2 linked regions of the Homo sapiens genome follow. The protein of the gene in region 1 purifies or fractionates together with the protein of each later gene. This does not show direct contact. Each region holds a gene or a part of one and is shown on either strand. Other genes may lie near its edges.

The links.
Region 2: the proteins of ZNF284 (region 1) and DIAPH1 purify together in Homo sapiens (affinity purification with mass spectrometry; one large-scale study listed by BioGRID and IntAct). This does not show direct contact.

What each region holds. Positions count from the first base shown.
Region 1 is NC_000019.10:44,082,047-44,085,697, forward strand, and holds part of ZNF284 (zinc finger protein 284), read left to right. Parts: coding exon 1-59; intron 60-3,651. UniProt on the Homo sapiens protein: May be involved in transcriptional regulation.
Region 2 is NC_000005.10:141,528,455-141,532,105, reverse strand, and holds part of DIAPH1 (protein diaphanous homolog 1), read left to right. Parts: intron 1-2,408; coding exon 2,409-2,503; intron 2,504-2,832; coding exon 2,833-2,934; intron 2,935-3,164; coding exon 3,165-3,404; intron 3,405-3,523; coding exon 3,524-3,651. UniProt on the Homo sapiens protein: Actin nucleation and elongation factor required for the assembly of F-actin structures, such as actin cables and stress fibers. Binds to the barbed end of the actin filament and slows down actin polymerization and depolymerization.

The sequences.
Region 1 (3,651 bases):
CCAAAGAGAAGAAAAGTTTTGGATCATGGAGACAGCAACCCAAAGAGAAGGGAATTCAGGTAAGAACCAAGCAACGATGCATCCTTGTACGTGACCCTTCCATCTGTTTTACTTCTGTCCATTGCCCAACTCCATTGCCCTGGTATAAATGGCCAAACCTGTTTCCTGGATTCTTACCTCCTTCCTGCTGGTTGTCCTGCTCCCCCACCCCCTCTTCCCACCCTGACATCTGTTTTCCTCATAGCAGCCAAAGTGATCCTTAGGGAATGTAAGTCAGATTGCCATTCCTCAGCTTAAAAGCCTTTATGGCTTCTTATTTGTGTTAATGTTACAACTGCTTTAAGTGCCTTTTAGAGACCCTTGATCTGCTCTTCATCCCCTACTGCCTCTCTGACTACATCTCCATTTTCCAGCCACGTTGTACTCCCTGCTGTTTCTCCATCCTGCCAAGGACACTGTATTGCCTGTTGCTGTCACCCAGTGACCACACACTTAGCAGATTAAACAACAAACAATTATCTTTCTGTTCTTCAGATCTGAAGTCTGACACATCTCACTGGACAAAAATCAGGGTGTCCCTAGGGCTTTGTTCCTGTCTAGATGTTCTTGGGGAGAAGCCTTCACTTTAATTTACCAATCCCTAGGCACTGTCCACACTCCTTGGCTCTTGTCTCCCTTCCTCCATCTTCAAAAGCAGCTACATTGCATCTCTAACCATTCTTCCATAGTCATCTGCCACCCTTCTTAAGCCTCTGTTTTCCACATTTTGGGTCCCTTGCGATTGGATTGGTCACTCCTGCATAATCTAGAATGACCTTCTTACTCTCTCTTTAGCTGACTAGTGACCTTAATTGCATCTGCAGCCTTAATATCTCTTGCTATATAACATAACAGGTTCATAGGTCCTGGGAATTGGATGTGGACATCTTTCAAGGACCATTGTTCTGTCTACTACAGAAGCTTCTGTCTTAGAGTTTATATATGCTCTTCTTTCTGATTGGAATACTCTTTCACCTCAAGACCTTCTGACCCTTCCTTTATTCTGGTCTCTGTTCAGTTTTAATATCATGAGAAAGGCCTTCTCTGACCACTCTATTTAAAATACCAGCCGGGCGTGGTGGCTCATGCCTGTAATCCCAGCACTTTGGGAGGCTGAGGCAGGCAGATAGCATGAGGCCAGGAGTTTGAGACCAGCCTGGCCAGCATGGCAAAACCTGACTCTACTAAAAATATAAAAATTAGCTGGGTGTGGTAGCACAGTCCTGTAATCCCAGCTACTCGGGTGGCTGAGGCGTGAGAATCACTTGAACCCAGGAGCCAGAGGTTGTAGTGAGCTGGGATTGTGCCACTACACTCTAGCCTGGGTGACAGAATGAGACTCTGTCTCAAAAAATAAATAAAGAAATATATATATATATATATATATATAGAGAGAGAGAGAGAGAGAGAGAGAGAGGGAATGGAATACCATCCTATCTTTACCCTTCTGGTGTTGTCTTATACTGTGTCTTATATATTTCTATTTAGCTGTCATCTCTACCCACTGGAATGGAATGTCTTAAGAGGAGGACTTTTAGCTGTTCAATTTTTATTTTAAGATTCAGGGGGTACATGTGCAGGTTTGTTACCTGGGTATATTGTGTGATGCTGAGGTTTGCATTGCAAATGATCCTGTCACCCAGGTACTGAGCATAGTACCCAATAGTGGTGGCAGGATAACCCTCAGGTTTTAAGGCTATGTGTACCGGTGTTAGAGGTAGTGGTGATGGGCTGGGTGGGCCAGTCCTGAGGCCCCCACATGGTGTGTGCAGGTGAGTGTCAGCGGTGATGGTGGCAGCAGGCTTGTAGGACCTGTCCTCAGGTCACTAGGAGGAGTATACAGATGCCAGTGGTGGTGATCAGGGCAGGGAAATCCTTAGGTCTCCAGACAGCATGCTTGGGCACCTGCGGCAGGGTTCTGGGTCTGTTGTAAAGCTCCCTGCATGGTACATGCTCATGCCTGGGGCAACCAACATGGCAGGGTGATCTCAACAGCCCCAGGTGGTATGCTTAGGTAGTGGAGGAATGACGCCAGGCCAGGTGAGCCTGTCCTCAGGCCTTTCAGTGGTGCAGGCAGATGTAGGCTGTGGTGGAAGAGGCGGCGTGATCCCTAGGTCCCCAGATGGCATGCTCCAGCACTGGCAGCACACAAGCTGGGTCTTTGTCAGGTCTCCTGTTTGTGCACACATGTGCCTGAGGCAACACAGGGTAGAGCAATCCCCAGGTCCCTCTGTGTCATGCTCTGGCACTGAGATGGGCGGTACCAAGTGAAGTGGGCTTGTCCTGTGCACGGGCACAGGTTGTGGTGGGCAGTGCAAGGGACTCCCCATGCCTTTAGGAGGTGTGCTTGGGTGGCAGTGGCAGAGTGTGCAGAGAAACTTTCCTCAGAATGAGAACACATATGAGTGTACAGTGGCCCTGCTGCTGGGGGTGAGGTAGCATTGCCGTTAGAGGCAGCAGCCCCAGACAGGCAGCTTTCAAGCTCTGGTGAGTGCACACACTTTGGGTCCCTTTGTACTGTACTGGGGGCAGCCTCCCTGGTGTCCTTCACGGCCCATTCCCTAGAGTATGGGACACTATGTGGCCTAGATTGCTGGGGACTCTGCCATACTGCTGGGTCTAACAGGCATTATTGTAACCCTCTGGGTGGATGTGGGGGCATGTCCATGGGGCTTCAGGGATTTGGAGATGCAAAGGCTGTTGGGCCCCAGGGCAAGATGCAGTCTGGTGGGGGTGCAGCTCTCAAAATAGCGCTGTGCCATAGCTGCTTGAGTCTCAGGAAGTGTGTGGGTCCCATCATGAGTACCCTCTCTGAGTGCCATTGCATGGACTCCAGGTAGCCCCCTGTGCTAGTCTCAGGGCCCACAGGGGTCGAGGGCCTCTCTCATGGCTGATTGCTGGAGTGCACAGCGGAAATGTAAACCACTAGGGCTCTCTCACTTACCCTTTCCCAGCACTAGGAGCCTTTCCCGGCTTTCAGGTGATCACGGCCAGAAGGGCTACCTCCCTTCGCTCTCCTTTTGTGCTTCGGGTGTTTCCTGTCACTTCTCTGCTGAATTCCAGTGATCCCTCTTAGATGCTATTTGATGTATGAGTATCTATTTGCTTTTTAAATTTTTTAGTAATAAAATATATAGAACACTTCATGAATTTGCATATCGGCCTTGTGCAGGGGCTGATCATTCCAGTTTTACCATATGTGCTGCTGAAGTGAGCACTACTCATTATTTTGGCTCTTTGTGGAGGACGCAAGCTCTGGGTGTCTTTAGTCAGCCATCTTGAAGTCCTCCTACCCTTAACGTTCCTTCTGATTCATCACATATATAATTTAGTAGTTACATAATATACCATGCAAGATTTTAGACTAACTAGGAAATTGGTAGAAATAGTAACACATTAACTGTATTATATTAATATTTTAAATTAAGTCTTTCATTTCTACCACGTATGAGACATTATGTCATTCAAAATTGGTTTCGTGACAACGAGAGACCGTGGTGCACTTGGAAAACACAAACTGTACCTTCCTTGTATTCAGTAAAGTTTCAGGCCATGTCCTAAGTGAAATCCTGAAAACACTGAACAAAGGTTTCACTTACCCACATCTCTTAA
Region 2 (3,651 bases), on another chromosome or scaffold:
ACATTGTGCAGTTCAGGAACTGCAAGTAGTTGAGTACAACTGAGTAAAGTTTAAATCAGGAAAATGAGTGAGATTATCCTGTGTAATTTTTAGGAAGGCTGCTTTGGCAGTGATTTTGAGGCTGGATTGCTTTTTATCCTGTGTAATTTTTAGGAAGGCTGCTTTGGCAGTGATTTTGAGGCTGGATTGCTAAGGTAAGGGGAGACTATAGGCAGAGATGAGTTATGTCATTGTTTTAAACTAGGTGAGATGTGATCAGGGCCTGAAACTAAGGTGATGAGAATAAGAGAGGGAGAGGATATTAAGATGGTAGAATTAGGCTAGGTGCAGTGGCTCATGGCTGTAATCCCAGCACTTTGGGAGGCTGAGGCAGGTGGATCACTGGAGGTCAGGAGTTCGAGACGAGCCTGGTCAACATGGCAAAATGCTGTCTCTACTAAAAATAGAAAAATTAGCTGGGCATGGTGGAGCACGCCTATAATCCCAGCTACTCATGGGGCTGAGGCAGGAGAATCGCTTGAACCCGGGAAGCGGAGGTTGCAGTGAGCCAACACCATGCCGTTGCACACCAGCCTGGGTGACAGAGTGAGACTCATCTCAAGCAATAAATAAATTAAAATAAAAAACTAGCCAGATGTGGTGCCGCATGCCTATAGTCCCAGCCACTTGGGAGACTGAGGTGGGTGGAGGATTGCTTGAGGCTGGGAGGTCCAGGCTGCCATGAGCTATGACTGCACTGCTGCACTCTAGCTTGGGCAACAGAGTGAGATGCTGTCTCAAAAAAAAAAAAGAGAGAGAGAGAGAGAAGGTAAAATTAATGGAATTTAGTGATTGACTTGGGATAAAGGAGAAGGTGCTTTGAGGTTTAGGTCACTCTGCGGAAAGTGGTACCATTTACTGAAATAGGAAAATTCAGCAGGAACAGATTGTCTTTTCGGGGAGGTGGATGTGAGAGGTAGCAGGTTGGTGTCTTACTTAAAGTATATTCTCTAAGTGGCTGCCATCTTTTCATTGGCTTTGTGGTTATGGAATAAATCAGAGTCGTGGAAGTGAGAGAGAATAGGCTAGTTTAGATTGCTATAAAGTGAAAGAAAGAGAAACTGGTAATTTAGAGAGGAACATTGAGTAAGATTTAAAAAACTTGATTATGTATATATGATGAAGGGAAAGGTCTGTGGGGCTGCCTCTTCTGTTGACACATGAGGAAAGGATGAGTACATGGGAGTATATATACTTAGACGTAAATATATGAACACATGCCTCCTATAAGCTTACGAAAATGTTGGTATAGTTTTCTTCTAGGCGATTCCAAAAGGCTTATCTGAGTCTTTTCTAGTCTGGCTCTAACCAAGAGCCCTAGTGCTTTATTTTTAAGTAGGATAAGAGAAAGCTGAGCAAGTAATTTGACCAGTGGCTTTGATTTTTCTCAGTGAAGAGGAGCAGGGTCTTCCTGGAACAAATGGGGAAGTGGTGGGGCAGTGGGGAAAGTGGGAATATGTTGGAGGACCTGCCAAGAAGGGTGGGAGAAAGTGGAATTGGGACACACAAAGAGAATTGCTAACAGCGCGGAGGCCCCAGTTATCATTGGTGCTACTGCAAATTCATAGACTCCAGTCCGCATCAGCCTAGGTGTCAGAGTAGAGAAATGAAATGGCTAGACTGACCAGGGACCCAGAAGGAGAAGGAAGCAAAAGAAAGGTAATAGTAGGAGTAATAATACTAATGGGAGTCATAGTAGAGAGCAAATGAACTGATGGTTTAGAGGCTCCTAATGAAATAGGAAAGGCAGAGTGGAACTGATATATCAGTGAAAACAGAATGGTCAGGAGACTGGAAAGAGAGGTCCTGATAAGGCTGAAGAGTCAAGTGAGAGATTAGAAAGGGAGAGTTGAAAAAACAGGATGTATTTGTTAGGGAATAGGATATGGTGGTTTAAGGTCAAGGCAGCTTTGAGGATCACGTCCTGAGAGTGGGGAACTAAAGTAGAGTGGGGTGAAAGTCTTTGACGTATATATACTTTTTTGAGACGGGTCTCGCTCTGTTGCTCAGGCTGGAGTGCAGTGGTGCGGTCACAGCTCACTGCAACCTTGACCTCCTGGGCTCAGGTGATCCTCCCACCTCAGCCTGCCGAGCAGCTGGGACTACAGGTGCACACCACCACGCCTGGCTAGTTTTTGTATTTTTTGTGGAGATGAGGTTTCCCCATGTTGCCTAGGCTGGTCTCAAACTCTGGGGCTCAAGCGATCCGCCCACCTTGGCCTCCCGAAGTGCTGGGATTACAGGCATGAGCCACTGTGCCTGGCCTAAAAGAGCCCTGTTAGGAAGATTATCCAGCATAGGTTTGCAGGATGGGTTGGAAGCGGGAACAGACCGAGAAGAACATGTCTTAATATCTCATTTTCTGGCAGCAATCTTTTTGGGTTCCTTCCGCATGCCCTATCAAGAGATTAAGAATGTCATCCTGGAGGTGAATGAGGCTGTTCTGACTGAGTCTATGATCCAGGTAAGGAGTAAGGTGGTTCTGCTGGAGCAGGCTCTTCTGTGTCGCTGGGCACTGGCCTCATCTCTGTGTAGATGAAGAGGATCCTCCTCCAGCATTGCTGACTTATGAATGCTGGCTTTGAGAAACTGCCTTTTCTCTGGTGGTCAGATTACTTCTGGTATATTTTGCAAAAGTACCCCCATCTCAGTAGCTGCCTCTCTTCTCCCACCATATGTTTCTTTCTGTATGGTCCTTGAGCAGAGTGTGGGACTGACAACAGAGTAAAAGTTGTTTAGGCTTGAGTTGTTAGCGAATTCCCCTCCAGCTGAGATGTCTCTTCTGTCTTTCAGAACCTCATTAAGCAAATGCCAGAGCCAGAGCAGTTAAAAATGCTTTCTGAACTGAAGGATGAATATGATGACCTGGCTGAGTCAGAGCAGTTTGGCGTGGTGGTGAGTGAGGCCTGTGGCAGTAAGCGGTTTTCCACCTCCTGTATTCCCCTCCCCTCTAGAGAGCAGCCTGGGCATATGCTCCTTGCCGCTTGTCTGTTTTTGAACCTGTCTTAATCTCTCTCTTCTCCCTGCTCTGGAGCTGTGATCCTCCCATAGGAGGCTCAAGCGTGTATCTTTTTCTGACTTCCCCCTCTTTTGACTGTAATGGAACTGCTTGTGTTCTTTACTAGATGGGCACTGTGCCCCGACTGCGGCCTCGCCTCAATGCCATTCTCTTCAAGCTACAATTCAGCGAGCAAGTGGAGAATATCAAGCCAGAGATTGTGTCTGTCACTGCTGCATGTGAGGAGTTACGTAAGAGTGAGAGCTTTTCCAATCTCCTAGAGATTACCTTGCTTGTTGGAAATTACATGAATGCTGGCTCCAGAAATGCTGGTGCTTTTGGCTTCAATATCAGCTTCCTCTGTAAGGTGAGCCAAAGAGGTAGGGCAGGACAACACAAGGAAGGCTGTAGCCTCTATGAGTTCAGTGTTGGCAGGAGGCCATCTTGGACATGTCAGGATTTAACAGTTTCTCCTCTTTCTCTAAGCTTCGAGACACCAAGTCCACAGATCAGAAGATGACGTTGTTACACTTCTTGGCTGAGTTGTGTGAGAATGACTATCCCGATGTCCTCAAGTTTCCAGACGAGCTTGCCCATGTGGAGAAAGCCAGCCG